Linked DNA regions of Homo sapiens: region 2 is linked to region 1. Evidence: fine-mapped expression QTL. A gene starts in region 1. The other region holds a variant in brackets. All regions are shown on one strand. Distances are from middle to middle.

Evidence for each region.
Region 2: its variant is fine-mapped to the expression of EPB41L1 in tibial artery (GTEx, PIP 0.96).

Annotation. Positions count from the first base shown.
Region 1 is chr20:36,149,517-36,159,190 of GRCh38, forward strand. It overlaps EPB41L1 (erythrocyte membrane protein band 4.1 like 1), which reads left to right and starts at 5,224. Exons shown (of 22, transcript NM_012156.2): 1 at 5,224-5,380. EPB41L1-AS1 (EPB41L1 antisense RNA 1) reads right to left here and starts at 6,244. Exons shown (of 4, transcript NR_147703.1): 1 at 6,080-6,244; 2 at 5,547-5,738; 3 at 307-394. LOC124904893 (a long non-coding RNA gene) reads right to left here and starts at 4,930. Exons shown (of 2, transcript XR_007067572.1): 1 at 4,381-4,930; 2 at 3,153-3,570. RefSeq lists a silencer at 4,963-5,162.
Region 2 is chr20:36,093,041-36,102,714 of GRCh38, forward strand. It overlaps a transcript of EPB41L1 not described here. Among named protein-coding and RNA genes, the nearest start is that of NORAD, 47 kb to the left of the region's middle. RefSeq lists enhancers at 243-1,194, 2,323-2,824, 4,688-5,196 and a silencer at 542-751. The variant C/A (reference allele first, on the strand shown) is at 5,534.

The DNA of each region.
Region 1 (9,674 bases):
TGGAGGGGGGAGGTCCCTGCAAGGTGGGCACTGCCACCTGTCCACCCTGCCTACTTCCTCCACCCAGACACAGCTGCCCTGTGGTGCCCTCTGCAGAGTGCCAACCTCAGTGAAACAGCCTGCCAGGCAGCACTTCCCAGAATGGTGGGTCATGCTGCTCTGTTAAGTTTGGCTCCGCTAGCTCCCTCCCTCTGGCCCAGCTCCCAGTGGCCTGGGGCTGTCACTGGGCCCGGCTGCCCTCCCGGGCAGGAGCCAGCTGCCCTCCAGCTCTCTTGTCCTGGAACACCCTCCTCCCCATGACCTCACCTTTAACCCAGCTTGGCTTAGTGTCTTCTCCTCCAGGAAGCCTTTTCTGATCCCTATGGGCTGAGTTAGGACCCCAGAGTATCTAAACCTGTACTGACCAAAAGAAATATAATGTGAGCCACACGTGCAAGCCACACGCAATTTTAAATTTTCTAGTAGCCACATTTTTTAAAAAAGTCAAAAGAAACAGATGTAATTATTCAAATGATTTGTTTTATTTAACCCAATACATTCATAAGGTTTTTTTGTTTTTTTTTTTTTTGAGACGGAGTTTCGCTCTTGTCCCCCAGGCTGGAGTGCAATAGCACGATCTCAGCTTACTACAACTTCCGCCTCTTGGGTTCAAGCAATTATTCTCCTGCCTCAGCCTCTGGAGTAGCTGGGATTATAGGCACATGCCACCATGCCCGGCTAATTTTTGTATTTTTAGTAGAGATGGGGTTTTACCATGTTGGCCAGGCTGGTCTCGAACTCCTGACCTCAGGTAATCCGCCCACCTCGGCCTCCCAAAGTGCTGGGATTACAGGTGTGAGCCATGCCCGAGACATATTACATTCTTTTTGGTATGAAATCTTCAAAATCTGATTTTTATATTTACAGCACATTTTTATTTGAACGAGCCACATTTCAAGTGCTCCATAGCAACTAGCCATGGCTAGTAGCTACCATATTGGTTAGCACAGACCTAAAAACAGGGAGTTTATAAGGGTTGAAGCTCAGAGTTTGGCACCAGACATACCTGTCAGTCATATTCCGACCCTGCCATTTATTAGCTGGATGAACTTTGGGGTCGCTAACCCTTCTGAGCCTCAGTTACTTCAGCTGTGAAAGGGATTAATAATTTCAGTGCCAGAGAATTGCTTTGAGGATTAAACAAATGAATGTGTGTCCAGTGCCAGGCACAGAGGAAGTGCTCAGAAAATGGTGGTGCTTCACCTTCTAGTATCCTCTGATGTGCTGGGGTACGTGCCTCCACTAGATTGATTGTGAATTCAAGGGCAGAGGCTGTATTCAATTCCTCCAGCCTTCCCCAGTGTCCAGGGCCTGGCTTGGTGTGAGCATTACTGCTTGCTGAATGAAAGATTAAGTCCTTGGGCTGGGAGTGCTCCCCACCCCACCCTGCTTGCCCAGTAGTCAAGGGCCCTGGTGGCTGGGAGTCAGGAGACCACTGACTACTTGTGGGTGACCTTGGCAAGTCACTGCTTTGCTTAGAACCTTGGTTTCCTCCTTTGAAAGATAAAAGGGAGATAGGAGGGGCCCTGCCTGAAGTGTTTGGTTGAATCTCTGCCCCGCAGTGACCTTGGGGGTCTGTGGCTGACTCTGTGTCCCTTGCTTTCCCAGCCAGTGGAGCGAATCACTTCCGTTCTCCTCCTGGCTTTCCTGTATCCTGGACTTTTGCACCATTAAGTTCCATCCAGTTAAAATTTAAGAGGAAAGAATTTCTCCTGCCTCCTAGACAGAGCAGAGAGGGAATGAAGGGTCCTGTCCCTTCTCTTCTGCCAGCATCTGCTGACCTCCCATCACAGCAGCCCAGTGACAGACATGGGGCAGGGATTCTCCCATTTTATAGGTGAGAAAATTGAGGCTCAGAGATGTCAAATAACCTGCCTAAGTAATACAAAAAGAAATGGTAGCGCTAGGGCTGGAAGCAGAATTTGCAGCTAAGGAACTGAGGAACCCCTTTTTTGGATGGGCTCCTCTTTCCTTCTTTCTCCATGAGACTTGGTCCTAGGTTGAGTCCTATCCCTGTGCCTCAGTTTCCCTGCCTGGGGAATGAAAACAGTCAAGTAACTCAAGTAGTAATTGCAACTGATGCCTATGGGGGCCATACATTCTTAAGTGTCTCTCCTGCTTCCTCCAGCCTGATTTTTCTGGAAAGGGTTATTGTTGGGTAAAGTGGAAAGTATGTAGTCCAGGGAGCCAGTGTAACTGTGTAAGCGTAACCTTGGGCAAGTCACTCCCACTCTGAGCCTCAGCCTGCCTATTTATAAGATGGGGGCCGGGCGCGGTGGCTCACGCCTGTAATCCCAGCACTTTGGGAGGCCGAGGCGGGCGGATCACGAGGTCAGGAGATCGAGACCATCCTGGCTAACATGGTGAAACCCCATCTCTACTAAAAATGCAAAAAAAAATTAGCTGGGCATGGTGGTGGCAGGCGCCTGTAGTCCCAGCTACTCGGGAGGCTGAGGCAGGAGAATGGCGTGAACCCGAGAGGCGGAGCTTGCAGTGAGCCGAGATCGCGCCACTGCACTCCAGCCTGGGCAACAGAGCGAGACTCCGTCTCAAAAAAGAAAAAAAAAAAGATGAGGGATGATATTATCTCACAAGATGCTGTGCAGATGACACACAAAAGTATTTTGCAAACTGGAAAGTGCTAATAGAAATGTTAGTGAATAATAATAATAATCAAAATAATTAAAATAGCAGAAGCCTCATTTTCTGTGTGGTCTCAATGACCTGAAGTGAATTGAGCCCTTTGGGTATAAATGCAGAACGATGTCTGGGAACATCCTGCCTCGGTCTTTGGAGTGTAGCCTGGATTCTCCTGGGAAAGTGAGAGGCTCCATCTGGTTGAGGAGGGTGGGAAAGTGGCCCTGCCCCAGGGGAGGAGTGGGGAGGGCTTCAGCCTGGGGGAAGGAAGGAAAGGGAGATGGCCAGGGAAGGAGAGTTGAACTAAGAGGAACAGAGAGAGCCTTGGCCATGCAGCCCAGAGCCTCCTGCCCACGGGAGCCCACGATTGGGAAGGCTCAGCCAGCAGGGGAGACTGAGCCTATTTGGAATCAAAATACTTGAAGGCAGGCAGTCAAGAATCTCTTAGCAGCTGTGCATCTGAAACAATAAATGCATCTGGTATAACTCCTGAGTTTTATTGGTCCTTTCACTCATTCATTTAAATAAATGTGTGGTGAGCTAAACTCAAACAGAGCACCTTGTGTGGCAAAGTGACTTGCCCAAGGCCACGGCCCCAGGGGCCTGTGTGAGACTCCCTTGGGAGCTCCTGGGAAAAAGTGAATTTGAAAGGCCTGGGGATGAGAAGTCCAAAGGCAAAGGACAGGATTTGTACAGAAGGCTGCCAAGCAGGACACTCGTCCTTCTGTCAGTCGGCCTGGGCAGATTTGTCTGTCTTCCCACCTTCTGTCTGGAGGGTGGGCCTGTTCTCTAGGACTGGGAGAAGCTGGCTTCATTCTGCTCTCTGCTCTTCATCCGCTGCTGAACCTGGTGAGCAGGGGGAGTGAAGGCACCGGAAGCTTTGTCTAAAGACACCTGATGAAGGAGGTTTAAGTTGGAGAAGAGAAGGCTTGCTTTGGGCATGGTACAAAGGGACGCAATTGTATCTTGAGTTCTCTAAAGGGTGCTGAGGAGAGGGCATAGCCTCATTCTTTGGAGGCCCTAGAGTGCCTATGAGGACCCAGGGTAGAAGGTCACCATGATGGAGCAGCACACTGGGAGGGAGGAGTTGGGGGAGGGAGGTGCCTGGCTCTATAGTGTGTGACAAGCAGAGATGGAGAGCCCACTGGTGAGGCTGATACTGAGGGAATCGCATCAGGGAAGGATGGAGGGCTCAGCTCACATCGAGGCTGCTTCCCAGCTTGGGGCCTCTGTGCTTCCCAGGGCAGTGGATTCTGTGGTAAGAACTATGGCCAGCACATGGTAGGTACTTAGGAATGATGTGAAGAATGAATGAATAGTTGTGTATGCCTGGAGGTGAGGGTGGTGACTGGGGGTTCGCGGTCATATGGGTTGCAGTGGACCCATGGACAGAAATCTTTGGAGATCATGCTGCGGTTACCCACCATTCTCTCTATGCCTTCGCCATGAACTAGGGACCCTAGAGATAGGAACGTCCAGCCCTTTCGTCATTTGCAAATGAGGCCCAGAGCATGGAACAACTTGCCCAAGGGTACTTGCTGAGCCAGTGGCAGACCTGGACTGGAACCCAGGCCCTCTCCCTCCCAGAGTCCTCTGTGGCTTGAGGTCCCCACCTTCGGATTGTGTGAGATGGAGGTGCTGCAGTGGTTGGACTGGTTTTTTTAGTGGGTAACAGTGCTCCTGGAGGGGAGGAGCATGGCTTACCTTGGTTTTGAGCCATGATCTCTGCCACAAGCTGCTTGGCCAGCCCCTGCCCTTTCCTGGAGCTCAGGTGCACACTCAGCCTGTGCTCAGACACATACAGCAAGTGCGCCTGTACACAGGCCCCATCCCCAATAGGTCCCTGGGCTCTCACTGTTACACTTACTGTCATTGTCACCAAGGCGCATGTGGACAAATGTACACATAGACACCCTCTGGACACACTCAGAGGCACAGAGGATTCCCAGGAGACAGTTGTAATACCTCCTCCCGGTGGGGGAGGACGCCGAGTCCTAGGCGGGTTCTGCCCTGTCGCTGTGCTGCAGGGGTGGTGAGGGGATCCGGCTCCGGTGGGATGGGAGGCCCACTGAGGCTGAGTCACCCCTTCTGAGTCAGGCATGCATCCCCCTCTTCTCTCCTCCCCCTCCCTTTCTCGCTGATGAGCCCCCAAGAGGGCTTGGCGAGAGCAAGGAGGCCCGGGGCTGGCTAGGACCAGGGTGGGGGCAGCCGGGGCGCTCGAGAGGCCCCCCAGCTGCACAGTCCCGCAGTGGTCTGGGAACTGCCCGTGTGGCACGGACCGGGAGGAGGTGGCCTGGGAGCCTGAGAGAGAGGGCGGGGCGCGGGGGGAGGTGGGTGGTAGAGGAGACAGGCAGAGAGGAGGCGGAGGCAGGGGCAGGGCCGCGGCGCGCTGGGAGGCAGGCGCAAGCGGCGGCCGCCCCTGGGCTGGGCTCCGAGGCCGGGGCGGGGGCGGGGGCTGGCCGCGCGTCGGGCGCCAGGCCCGGGGCTGTGGGCACCGTGCCCAGCCCCTGGCGCACGCCGAGCCGCCGCCGCCGCCGCCGCTGCTGCAGTCGGCATCCATCAGCGGGCGGGGGTGTCGCCGAACAGGCTGCTCCGCAGAGCCCGCCGCGACCCCGCGCCGCCCCGCCCCGCGGCCTGCCTGCCAGAGGAGCCGAGGGGGCCGCCCCTCGCCCAACCTGCCCGACATGGGGAACCCCGGGCCCAGGTAGGCACATGGGGGAATCAGGTGGCTCTCGGGGCCGGGGGCTTGCAACATCTAGGCCCAGCCTCCAGCCCTGGGGAGGAACGGGGGCGAGGCCGAGAACTGAGTTTTCAGGCTGTTGGTCCCCTGGCCAGTGTGGGGGAGGGTCTCGCTGTTCCTCCCTACCTACCGGTCTGCAGCCTCCTCCAAGGCCTGGAGAGAGGATCCGGAGGCTGGGGGTTGGCGGGGGGTTGGTCCTGCTGTAGGATGAGCGGTGGGTGGGCGCTGGGCTCCCACCGGCTGGCCCAGTCTCTTTTCGGAGAGCACTCCTGCTGCCGCCTCCAGAGGCCAAGGGCTCTTTGGATTTCTGCTGCTTCTGACGCTGCAGGAGGAGTTCTTGGCTGGAGCCTGGGATGCTGGCGAGCCCTTGCCCTCATCTCTCCTCACTCTGGTTACGGACCCTTCCCCGCTCTGGGCTTGCCTCCCCTTCCGTCTCCCTTCCAAGTACCTCAGAGCTGCTAGGAGGGATCTTAGCCCTAGGACTTCTGCAGTTCTGGCCTGGCATTGTCCTGGCCAGTGACCGTCCCCTGATCAGAGGGAGAGGGCTTGTGTGTCCCACTTGTGTCTGGCACCTTCACACTTGGGGAGGTCCAAGGGCCCGAGAGGCTGGGGTCTCAGGGATGGGCATGGGGGGCCAATGTCTACAGCCATTGGGGTACTTACTGGGTGCAGAGGCCACTGACTGGCAGACGTATATGGCTCAAAGTGGTCCATGGAGACCTTGAAGTCTGGACAAGGACCAAAAGGGAGTTCTGGGGATGCTGGTCTCTCCCTCAGCTGCCAGCCATCGTCGTTGCTTTTCCCTCGGAGCTCTGAGGATGCATTGGTGGGGGAGAGAGCACCACGTGTTCCCACATTCACTTCTGGATCCGCATAGCACCTCCTCTGCACCCAAAGGTGGGAATGTGAGACGGCCAGATTTAGGACCTCTCCAGGGCTGTGCGGGGTCCAGCGGCTTGGCTTCATTCCCACCCCATCCCCCCACCCTCAGCATTAGGAGCCTTCCAGAATCAGTGGCACTTGAGCCAGGTCAAGATCTGGGGCCTGGATGGTGCCCTCCGCAGCTCTTGGAAGACAGTGCCTCCTGTCCCGGGCAAGGGTGTGGAGAATAGAGGCAGCTGTGTGCCTCTCTGCCCACCCATTCCTCCAGATGGAGCCTGCGGCAGAGGCAGCCTGTGCCAGCCTCCCCTATGAGCCACCGTGGCCCAGGAAGGCTCTGCCAGCTCTGTGCAAGGATGGAGCTGGCTTCTCCTGGCCAGCCTGAGGTCATGCCTGCCTGGCAACCCAGGCATAGTATTTATGGCATGCAGAGCACAGTCCCTGGGATTTCAGGGGCACCTCAAGGCAGTCCTGGAGGAGATCAGTGCAGAGGGCATTGTTCCTATTAAAGCCCTTCCTGGGCTATGTGACAGTCCTCCTGGGCTCAGCCCTGTGAGCTTCTTGAAGAGCTTCTTCCATAGAATCCTGCATGAAAACAATGCTTGGTCAGGTAGTCCTCACTCAGTCGATATTGAAAGGTTGAACGGGGCCTAGAGAGTAAGAGTGACTTGGCCAAGGTCACAAAGCAGCTGAGCGGGGGAGTCAGCATTAATGTACCCAGGTCTTCCACCTCTTGTTCTGGGGCTCTTGCAGCTCAGGTGCTGGCTTCCCTGCTGCGGTGGTTGTGCTATAGACAGGACTCTGCCAAGGGCTAGGCATTGTAGCCTGGAGCCTGAGGCTACCTGATCCCTTAGGAGGGGTGTTATGTTGGCCTCCCAGCCCTTGCCCTCAGTAGGTGAGCAGGAGAGGTCAGGGCTGAGAGAAAGGGCCGTGGGTGGTCCTGGACCCTCTTGGAAGTGCATAGAGCTGAGAGGATGCCAGGTGCCCAGGGATGTTCTGGCCTGAGCCTCCAGGGGGCAACAGAGAGTTTTCTGACTTCAGGCTGTGGTGGGAGGTGCTTGTTAGCACCTGCCGGGACTTCCCTAAGAGCCCCTTTCTGGGCTTCTCTGTCCCATTTGTTAAAAGGGGACACAGGCGTGCGCCATTGCGCACGCCTGTAATCCCAGCACTTTGGGAGGACGAGGCGGGCAGATCACAAGTTCAAGAGATGAAGACCATCCTGGCCAACATGGTGAAACCCCGTCTCTACTAAAAATACAAAAATTAGCTGGGCGTGGTAGTGCACGCCTATAGCCCCAGCAACTCGGGAGGCTGAGGCAGGAGAATCGCCTGACCCCAGGAGGCAGAGGTTGCAGTGAGCCGACATCGTGCCACTGCACTCCAGCCTGGAGACAGAGCGAGACTCCCTCTCAAAGAAAAAAAAAGGGCGGGGAGGATGATCATCTCTGCCTGGAGATAAATACCAATGATTACACAATCAAAGTGATAGTATTTATTGAAACTTACTGTATGCCATGTACTGCAAGAAGTGCTTTGAGTCATTTCACAGTAACCCTGTCAGATAGATGTGATTAATTATCCACTTTTTACAGAGGAGAAACTGAGGCTCAGAGAGGTTATGTCACTGGACTAAAGTTACGCAGCTGGAAAGTGCGAGGCGGTCTGAGTCCAGAGCCCTTCTTTCTACCATGACATTTACTGGGGGCAATATCTGGAAGTACCAGGTTGGTGTCCAGTGGAGCCAGGCAATTCATTGGTAGGCCAGGGCCAGTCCAGGTGGAGAGGTGTGTGAGGGGTGTGTGTGTGTGTGCCTGGTGAGGCAAGGGTGGCTTTGTGGACTGAATATTACTATAGTGCTGAGGGGTAGGGGTAGATAAGTACTGACTAGGAGCTCTCAGAGAAGGATTAGCCTTGGCCTTCTCCTTCCTGGCCAGGGTCCCCCAGAAGTGGGGAAACACCAGACTCCCTGCTCCCATTGGCTTTTAGGGAAGATGGGCTGGCTCTGGACACATCCCGAGGCCACAGTGGGGACTGGGCTAAGGAGGCCCTGTGGGCAGGGAGCTGAGCCTTGGTGGATGGGTGGGGGTGGAGCAGGCTGGCACTGCTTCCTTTGTGGGCTAGAGGCTTGTGGATCAGAATAGTAACAGCTAACATTTATTGAGCATTTATTATGTGCCAGGCCCAGTTTTAAGGGCTTCCATGTACAACTCATACGTTCTTCACAAAGCCCTGTGAGGTGTAGATGAGGTATAGGAGTTATTCTTCCCGTTTTACAGATTGATGGAGCTGTGGCTTAGATAGTTGTTCAAGGTCAAATAGCTAGGCTGTGGGGGAGTCAGGATTCAAACCTAGGCAGTGTGGGTCAGAGCCATGTTCCTGAAGGCCATGCCAGGCAGCCTGTAGTTTCTCAGAGGCCATACTCTGTTTTGTTCAAGTTGAAATAGTCACTCAGTCAGATGCATCCCTCTCCTCAAAGGCCTCCCAGTCTAGCTGGGAGAGATGCAGACATGACACACTAAAAGTAAAGAGTGTGCTATTGCATAGGCTCAGCATGGATTCCTATTTTGGTGCTCAGGGAAGGCTTCAAGAAGACGGGGACCTTTGAGCTGGGCACTGAAGGCCAAGTCGGATTTCGATGGTTGAAGGGGGAAGGGCACCCACTTCCCCAGGTCAGAGGGGAAGGAAATAGGAATGCCTCTGAAGAAGAGTGGGCGGTCTGATGTGCGTGGAACAGATAGTGTGTGTGGCGGAGTGTGAGCTGGGAGGTGACTCAGAAAGTCACCTAGTGTTTGGGTTTTTGATGGAGCTCTGGAATCCACCAGACGTAGGCTATAGTCACAGCAATGCATTGTATTAGCCACGTGGCCTTGGGCACATCACTCAGCTGGCCCAAACCTCAGTTTCCTCATTCGTAAAATGCAGATAAACATGCCTGTCTCACAGGGACCATGTTGTGGTTGTTATATAAAGCACCTAGTGTAATGCTAACACATTGCAGGAACTCAGTAAACATTACTTCTCTCCCGCTTCTGTCTCTCTTAAATGTCAGGCCAAGGTGTTTCGACTTGACGTGAGCCGGGATGCTCTAGGAATCTTTGCAGGATTTTAGTCTGCTGAGGAGCATGACAGAACTGTGTTTTGGGAAGGTCCTTTTGGCAACCGTATGATCCACAGGAGAGGGTGGACGTGATCTTACAGGAGAAACCTTAACTGTGGGGACTTGGAGGGCTGGGGAGGGATCAAGATTGGCACTCATTAAGGTGTCCCTCTGGTAGTGGGTGGTTCGCCAGGTTGGAGAAGGAGGAGCTTGGAGTGGGTAAGGCCACAGGGTCAGGAATTCTGTTTCAGGCCTGGTGAGTTTGAGAAGGGCTGGTCTCCC
Region 2 (9,674 bases), 56 kb before region 1:
GCGCGCGTGTGCCCGTGGATCCGTGCGAGCGGCTGCTCGGTGTGCGCGCGCGTGCGTGTGTGCGCCGGGTGTGCATCTGTGTGTGCGTGTGTGAGGGTGTGTGCCTTGCGTGTCTTCGCGAGTGGTGCGTGCGTATCTGGGTGAGGGTGCGTGTGTCTGCGTGTGTCTGTCGGTGAATGTATCTGTGAGAGGGTGTGTCCGAATGTGTAGCAGTGTGTACACCTCTGGGTGAGGGCGTGTGCCAGTGGCTTCGCTTGTGGCTGCAGCCTGTGGCGGGTGTGGGTGTGTGTGTGCGCGCGCGTCGCTGTGTGCGCGCCAGTGTAACTCCCGTGTGTGCGCGTGTGAGTGCGGGTGTGCTCCCGCGTAGCCCCCGTGTGCGTGTGCGCGGCTTTGTCTTCGCACTGCCGGGAGGAAGCGGTGGGGGCGGCGGTCCAGGCGCCGCCGCCGCTGGGAGCTGGGCACCTGGCCTGGGCGGTGGGTGGCGGCGGCGGGGGTGTCCCTTCCCCGTCGGGCAGAGACTCCCTGCTGGCAGGTGGGCGGCCACACCCCGGGGGTCGGGGGAACTGGGCTGACAGCAGAGCCCGCGTTCTGACCTGAGCTGGAGAGGAGGGCGTGTCCTGCTTGAAGCCCGTGTGCGTGCGTGCGTGCGTGTGTGTGTGTGTGTATGTGTATGCGTGCGCGCGCGTGTGTGGATGTGGGTGTGGGTGCGGGGTGGTGGTGGTAGCAACAGCAGTTTCCAGGCTGGTGACCAGCCGGTTCAGGGATTCATTTCCTGTTGTGGCCAGGGGACATGTCCCCTCCGGCCTCCCCCCAGCCCCCCACCAGACCTAGCCTGTGCCAGTCTCACCCGTGCAGGGCTCTGGGTGGGTGGGAAGGTAGGTGGGTAGAAGCTCAGGTGCCCTGAAAAGGACTAGGAGGGAGAACCACTCTCTTAAAGGGCCAGCTCCTCACTCCAGGGAATCCCTCCTCAGGAGACCTCTCTACTTTGAAAGAGATGTCTCTGGGTATGTCCATACCCCTTTCTCCAAGTACTGGTGCATACAGGCATTTCTAGATCTGTAGTCTGTGTGCATGTGTCCTCCCTGTGTACTTCTTGTACATTTGGGTGTATAGTGAACAGTGAAAATGTATCTCTTGATGTATATGTGTGTGTGTTTTTATAGGTTCTGGTATATTTGTTTTTATGTATGTGTAGTTGTTTGTATATTAGTCTGTGCATGTGGGTTTGCAGAGAAGTGGCATTTTGCTGCCAAATGGAATAGAAGAGAAACATTCTGTACCGGGCCACGCCATTTTTGAAAAACTGCGTGAAAAGGAAGTTTGGGAATTTAGTCTGTGGCTTTGTGGGTTTCAGATACCGGTACTGAAATGTAGGTAGGTTGGATTTTGACTGTGATACAAGGGTAGAGAGAAGTAGAGTCTTATAGGAGGAAGAAATTGTTCAGAGAGAAGGATATCCAAGTGCAAGAATTCTTCCATTAGTTCCAGTTCTTCCCCGTAACGTCACATCCCCCTTTGCTGCTTGGCTTGCCAAGATACAGGACACAGGATTTGGAGTGCAAAGGGAGGGAGCTGGGAGTGTAAAAGGAAGGAAGGTGGATGGGTGATAGGATTGGGGGCCAGCAGCAGATTTCTGCAATTCTTAAAAATGTTTCCCTGCCAAAAGCAGCAGAGGCTGGGGAAAGCTGAGCTTTCTGTCCCCTCCTTGAATCCCAGAATCCCGGGACATGGGAAAAGCTGGCCTGGAGTTCATGAGCTCTGGAGTCTGGGCCAGAGATCTTTTGCCTTGTTCTGTCACCGAGACTGGAGTGTAGGCAGTGTCACGATCTCAGCTCACTGCAGCCTCCGCCTCCTGGGTTCAAGTGATTCTCCCGCCTCAGCCTCCTCAATAGCTGGGACTATAGGAATGAGCCACCACGCCCAGCTAATTTTTTTTTTTTTCTTTTTTGAGACAGAGTTTCACTCTTGTCGCCTAGGCTGGAGTGCAATGGCATGATCTCGGCTCACTGCAACCTCCTCCTCCTGGGTTCAAGCAATTCTTCTTCCTCAGCCTCCCAAGTAGCTGGGATTACAGGCACCCACCACCACGCCCGACTAATTTTTGTATTTTTAGTAGGGACAGGGTTTTGCCATGTTGGCCAAGCAGGCTTTGAACTCCTGACCTCAGGTGATCCACCCGCCTCGGCCTCCCAAAGTGCTGGGATTACAGGCATGAGCCACCGTGCTCGGCCTAATTTTTGTATTTTTAGTAGAGACAGGGTTTCACCATGTTGGTCAGGCTGGTCTCAAACTCCTGACCTCAAGGGATCTGCCTGCCTCCGCCTCCCAAAGTGCTGGGATTACAGGCATGAGCCGCTGCGCCCAGCCTGGGATCTTCTTTTGACTTTAGCCAACCCCTTCATGTGTTTATCTCTTCACCCAACACTTTTTATTAAGCTTCTTTATGTGAAAGGGTCTAAACTCCCTAAGCCTTGGTTTACCTGGCTAGGCAGCTAGTGGGCTAGATTTTGGGACTTTGATGACCCTTCCCTTGCTCAGATTGCTAGAGTTTGTCTCGTTGTTACCCAGGTTCAGGAATCCACCCTTCTAGTCCCCAGAGATCCTGGCCATGGTCCTCACTACTAATCTCCCCACCAATATACTCTAGTCTAGAGCTGTGGTTTTTTCACCTCACCAACAGCAGCAGGGTTACCTGGGAGTTTGTTAGAAATGCAATTTATTGGCAGGGCGTGGTGGCTCACGCCTGTAATCCCAGCACTTTGGGAGGCGAGGCGAATGGATCACCTGAGGTCAGGAGTTCGAGAGCAGCCTGGCCAATATGGTAAAAATACAAAATTTAGCCGGGCATGGTGGCACGCGCCTGTAATCCCAGCTACTAAGGAGGCTGAGGCAGGAGAATCGCTTGAACCCAGGAGGCGGAGGTTGCAGTGAGCTGAGATTGCATCACTGCGCACCAGCCTGGGTGACAGAGCGAGACTCCATCTCAGGGAAAAAAAAAAAAAAGAAATGCAATTTCTTGGTTCTCACGCCAGACCTAGGAATTGATAACTCTGGAGGTGTGGCCCAGCAATCTATGTTTTAACAAACACAGGTAATTCTTATTTACTCTGGAGCTCAAGAGAGGTGGAGACAGGGAGCCAGGAAACATCTATTAATTGAAACACTTGGAAAGCCTCCCCTGTCCCTCACACAGGTGCCTGAAATAGCACTCAGGCCCCACCTGGTAGGTAGGAATTCTGCTTTCAAGTCCCAGGTCTTATGATCTTGGACAAGTCTCTCCTTCAGTGACTAATGCAATGACTCTTTGACAGTGTGCTGTGGACCAGGTTCTGAGCGAGGGGTTTCCCTGATCTGCTCAGTTTCTCCAATTCTTACTTTGATCTCTAAGGCCCTTCAGGATCCAGTTCCTGCCCACTTCTCTGGACAACAGCCACTTTGGCCTTTTAGTTCATCTAGGCACCATGAGCTCTTTTGCTTCTGGGATTTTGCACATCCTGTTCCCTTTGTCTAGCACACTCTTCCCCTGCTTCTTATCTTGATTAACTCCCACTCTTCATGTTTCAGCTCAATAGTCACTTTCTCAGGGGGGCCTTTGCCAACTCTCTAGGCCAAGTCAATTTTCCCTGTTACACATTCTTAGAGCTCTCTGTGTCTCACAGGGCTTGTGAGAATTTGTAATTGTTGTTTGTCCCTTTACTAGACTGTAAATGCCATGTGGGCAGGAACTTGCTTACTAATCTTCTTAGTGTCCCACACAGTGCCTGACTTATGATTTGTGTTCAATAAGCTTGTCAAACTGAGTTAATTTATAAAATGGCAGATGGCACTAAATGATACCCAAAGTTTCGTTTCAAGCCCTGACAATGTGTAATCCAAGCAGGCTTCAGCCTTTTCTCAAGTTGATTTACCTGTCTTTTTCAATGCTGCATCTCCCATCTCCTGGCTGTAGATTTGAGCACTCACCGTGGGTCCAGGCCCATGCTGGGCTCTGCTCTAGTGGAGGCAGGAGGAGGCTCCTCAGGAGACACAGCCTAGCTTGGGTTCTGTGTCTTCCTGGATTAGGTTTGTACTGGAATGAGAAGAGGAAAAGTATTGAAAGAGGAATCCAAATATCTGCGTCCATGCCTTGTTATGTGACTGAGGGCCAATCACTTTCCCCTTTTGGCACGTGTCCATCTCTGTAAAATGAAGGTATTGGGATGGGTGGCACACTTAGTAGTGGTTACTAGCACTGGCTCTACAGTCATTCGGGGCTTGCCATGTACTAGCTGGGGGGACTAGGGCAAGTGATTCCATTTCCTCATTTCCTTACTTGTAAAACAGGACCAGTACTAGTATCTGTTTCACAGGATTGTTTTGATAATTAAATGAGATAACATCCTTGGAATGCTTAGCATAATGTGAGTGCATAAGAAACATTTGATAAATGTCAACTATTATGACCATTATTGCTACTCCACAATTCAGCTCAACATTCTTGAAGGCCTTTGTATTGGGCCCTAGGCCTACAAAAACAGAAATGAATCCAGCAGTATTCACAGGTTGGGGGTGGGAGCAGACATGTAAAGATGCAATACCACCGCAAGGACAATGTACAAGCTGCCAGGGTGTGGCTGTTTATGGAGGAAAAGGCTTCCTGGAGGACAGAGATGGTGTTTGGGCTGGATTTTACCGTCTGGGTATTTGAAATAGCATGTGCAAAGGCAGAACGGCTTCTTAGGGGAACCCCAAATAGTTCCACATGGTTGGAATAGGAGGTGGTGAGTGGCAGGGATGAGGGTGGAGGAGTGAATGACTGGAGATAAAGCTGAGAGGAAGATTAGGGACAGATCTGGTGCAGGCCAAAGAGCCTGAGCAAGTCCTGCAGACGGCAGGGAGCTGGGGAAGAGGAGTAAGCCAACCAGGAAGGATCAGATTTGCATTTCAAAAACACAGCTCTCCAGGTGGTGACAGAGGATGGTTGGTCTGGGAGGAAGGGAAGGACTGTTGACCTGGAGACCTGGGCACAGAGGCTGCTAAACAAGCTCAATGGGAGGCCCCACTGGGGTGGATAGATACCTAGAACAGGCTGTTCTAGGAAGCTTTTTCCTCTGTAAGCCTGTCTTCAGCCTGGTTTCACGACAGCCTGGCCCTGGAAGGTGCAGGAGAGGTGAGAGTGACTTCTCATGAGGAGCCTCTGGGTCCTCTTTAACCTCTAAAGCTGCCTAATGAGTGGGAATCTGAAAAACAGAGTTTGAGGGTCCTAGGTCTGCTACTCAAAGGATGCACAGTGTATTAACTTCCTAGGGGTGCTGTCATGAAGCACGCAAACCAGGTAGCTTTGAACCACAGACATTTACTCCCCCACTTGTGGAGGCTAGAAGTCTGAAATCCAGGTGTCAGCAAGGTTGGCTCCTTCTGGAGGCTCTGGGGCAATCTGTTTCCTGCCTTTCTCCTAGCTTCTGGTGGTTGCCAGCAATCTTTGGCATTTCTTGGCTTGCAGCTGCATCTGCCTCTGTCGTCACGTGGCTTTCTCTCTGTTTCATTTCCTCTT[C/A]TAAGGACACCAGTCATATGGGATTTAGAACCCACCCTAGTCCAGTATGACCTCATTTGAACTTGAGTAATTGCATCTGCAAAGACCCTGTTTCCAAATATGGTCACATTATGAAGTTTTAGGTAGACATAAATTTGGGTTGGGAGGGGACACTGTTCAACCCAATACATGCAGGAAGTTGGGGAGGAGTGCATGCCTTTTAGTTCCACAGGGCTACATCCAAATTTAGGCTTTGCAGTGGAGCCTCTATGAAATGGAGACAGTAGGCCAGGCATGGTTGCTCACGCCTGTAATCCCAGCACTTTGGGAGGCCGAGGTGGGCAGATCATCTGATCAGATTTGTATTTCAAATTTGAGTGATCTGAGGCGGATTATTCCTGAGGTCAGGAGTTTGAGACCAGCCTGGCCAACATGGTGAAACGCTGTCTCTACTAAAAATACAAAAATTAGCCAGGCGTGGTGGCGGGCACCTGTAATCCCAGCTACTCGGGAGGCTGAGACAGGAGAATTGCTTGAACCTGGGAGGCGGACATTGCAGTGAGCTGAGATTGTGCCACTGCACTCTAGCCTGGGTGACAGAGCAAGACTCCGTCTCGAAAAAACAAAACAAAACAAAACAAAGAAATGGGACAGTAGCACCTACAGTAGTGTCATGGTCATGAGACTTGATCAAAATAACAGATATGAGCATGCCTAATGAGGTAGTACACAGTAGGCACTCAATACCTACTTCCTTTCCAGCTCTCCCTTCTCTGCACTTAGGAGCTTGGACAAGTCACCTAATCTTGCTTTACTTTCCTCATCTATCAAATGTGAATAATCATCATCCAGCCCTGCCTACTTCACCAAATTGCGATCCCAGGAGATAATGAGAAAGCTCTTTGTAAATTGCTTAAGGGCTTGTAGCTGTGATTTTTAATTATAATAATAATCATCATAATAACCCTTGGCCATTGTCATATCCGCTGCATTCTCCTCAGAGCCCAGCCCAGCCCAGCCCGCTCCTCTCCTGAGACAGGTCCTCTTTGCCTGTTTGTGCTCAGAGGCATCCCATGAAGTGTCGCCTCTGTCTGAGTTGGGAGGACCTTAGAGATGGTCCTTGCCGTTGCCCTTATTAGCCTGAGGAGGGAAACATGCTCAGGGAGAAAAAGTGACACCCGCAAAGTCACACAGCTGGTCAGTGGTAATTGGAACACCTTATCTGTGGCTCCTGTCTTCAGTCTGAACAGTGCTTTTTCCCTAGTTGCAACTTTAGGCCCAGAAGCAGGAGCTCAGGGCAGATAGAGGCCTGGAGTGGGCTCTGCATATGTTCCAGAGGTGAGGATGCAACAGGAGAGTGTCCTGCTGTCAGGATTAGAACCCCAAGAAAGGGGTCCCTGGGCTCTGAGTGAGCAGGCTGAATGGGCCGGTTGTTCTGTTATCACTCTGGCTATGGCCATCTCTGCCTACTCTGGTGGGAGGGCCACCATGCGGGGCTCTGGAGTCTAGATGTAACCCAAGGCTTCAGTGTCCCTGTTGACAGCCAGGGTGGCATTTCTCAGCAGGTCCTGTCCCTCTAAGCCTTGCCTTGGTGGGTCTAGGGAAAGCTCTGGGAAAGAGAGAGGGCTTATACTGTCCTGGTAGTTTCTGGCAAGTCATCTTCCTTTCCCCCCACACTGGGGAAGCCAGGCCCCTCCTTGGCCCCTTGATTCTTCTTTCCTTTCCTCCCTCCTCTTCTCAGTTTGCTCTCTCCCTTCTGTCTGCTTTCTCCCCTTCCCTCTCCCCACCTTGTCCCCAGATTAGAGGTCTAAAGATAGAGTCTCCAGGCCCACTTCAGGTGGGTGGTTTTGGGTTTGCTTGAGGCCACCTAGAATTAGAAAGTCTAGAGTCTTCCTCATAAGAGGCTCACTCTGGTGACTTATAATCAACTGCTTATGTTTATTGGCTTACTGTGTGCCAGGCCCTGTGCTAAGCGCTTTACATGCCTTATGTCTTTTAATCCTTACAACTACCAAGTGAGGCAGAGATGATGATCCCCGTCGTATTACAGGAGGCTAAATAACTTGCCCAAGGCCTACGCAGTCCTCAGCCAGCAAGTGGCACAGCTGGGATTTCAATCTAGATCTGTCCGAAGCCCACCGGTACTCTTGAGTCTTTCCTATATGGCCTGTGACAGAGCCTGCGGGAGCATTTAGGTGTCCACAGAGGGGCATGCATTTGCTCAAATTCAGAGAACAAATTCTTGACTCTGAAAGAAGGGCTTCCAATCGAGGAATCTTCCCTCCCAGGCCTGCACTCTGGCAGCACCTCCGGGACTGGCCTTTCTACAGCATCAGCCTTGGGGCCCGCCAAGGCTCTGAGCCCATCTGGTTCTAGGCAGCTGCCCACCTGTAGGAGAGACACTGCATCGGTATGGGGGGTGGTGACAGGGCCCATCTGAAGGTACTTGCCTTTTTTCCTAGTTATTGTTTTGTCTCTGGCCACCTCAATTTTTCATTGAATCGAGTCTTCCACTTAAAGAAGCATATCATTTGCAAAGAGCATTACTTTTGTCTCCTCACAAGACTGCTTGGGAGCTTGGATATGCTGCAGGCTCAGTGACGGGTGGAACTCTGGAAGAAGTGGGGAGGGAGGCAGAGACCGGAGCCAGGAGACCCAGGTTCAGAGGTACATATCCACCAGAAGAAAAAAAGGAGCTGGCCTGAGGGCCAGAGGGAGGTGGCCTGGAGAGAGGGAGGAATAGGAAACCTGCTCTCACCCCATGTGCAGCCCGGGAGTCCAGACTCCCTCCCAGTCAGGGCTGCTGGTCTCAGACTGTCACTCAGGAATCTGGGCAGCTGCAGTCAGCTTGTTGAGCCTCCACCCACCCCAACCGAGACCATTATGTTGGTCAGCCTGGCTCAGCCCAGCCACCTGCCTGCCTGAGCAGGTGGCTCAGTCAGAAGGGACCTTGGTGAAGGAGTGGTGGCTTTGAAACTTCTATCCACAGAGCCACTCTTCATAGGCAAGGGAGCAGAAGTTCAATTTGTGAAACACCTAAAAGGGGGAGCAGCTTAGCACCCCACCCCATTCCCCTCCCTCCTAGGGTTCCCTAAGGCTGGGCCTCTCAAACTTTGTTTCCCCCTAAGAGCAACAAAGGTGAGCATGCTAAAAAGCAAAATAAAACAAAACAAAACCTGTGTGCCATGGCTCATGCCTGTAATCCCAGCACTTTGGGAGGCTGAGGCAGGTGGATCACCTGAGGTCAGGGGTTCGAGACCAGCCTGACATGGTGAAACCCTGTCTCTACTAAAAATACAAAAATTAGCTGGGCATGGCTGCATGCACCTGTAATCCCAGCTACTAGGGAAGATGAGGCAGGAGAATCGCTTGAACCTGGGAGGCGGAGGTTGCAGTGAGCTGAGATCACACCATTGCACTCCAGCCTGTGTGACAGAGTGAGACTCTGTCTCAAAAAACAAAACAAAACAAAACAAAACAAAACAAAAAAAACAAAAAAACCCAGCACTCTTTTTCCAGACCTCACCCAAGAGATTCAAACCCAGCTGCTCCATGGGCGGGGTGGGGGGTGGGCGTCAGATCCGAGGTAGGGCCCCGGAAGCAGCCTGCTGTAACAGTCTCCCCATCGAGATGATTGGGACACAGATGGTTCTCAGATTGCCCTTGTAGAAGGCTGGCCTCAGATGTTCATGAACTTCTGAAATATGGCATGCACAATGTTAAGAGTGTGCATTGTCCCTAGGAGAGGATCCACAGGCACCGTCTGTCTTGGAGTCACAACCCATACAACTTTAGAACTGCTGTCTTCAGGGTTGTTTTGCGCAGTTGGAGCCTAACGTCTAGAGAAAGGTCACCAGGGAGCCAATGGCAGAGCTGGGTGGAGAGGGCTGGTCTCTCATGCCTCTCAGCACATTACTGGCTTTGCTGTGAAGGTGGTCAGGGACTGTAGACCTGTCCCTCTGTCTGGGCCTCAGTTTTCCTAGCTGTAAAATGGGGGTTGGACAGGATAATCCCAAGTTTCCATGCAGCTTTGATCTGTGGTTCTGGAAGTCAGGTCTCCTGCTGCCCAGTCCAAGTTCTTTGTCCTTTTCCTTGCTCCTCCCTGGCTTCACCCACCACTGGGGGGACCTCCCACTTTTGCATCTTCCATCTTCAGAGATTC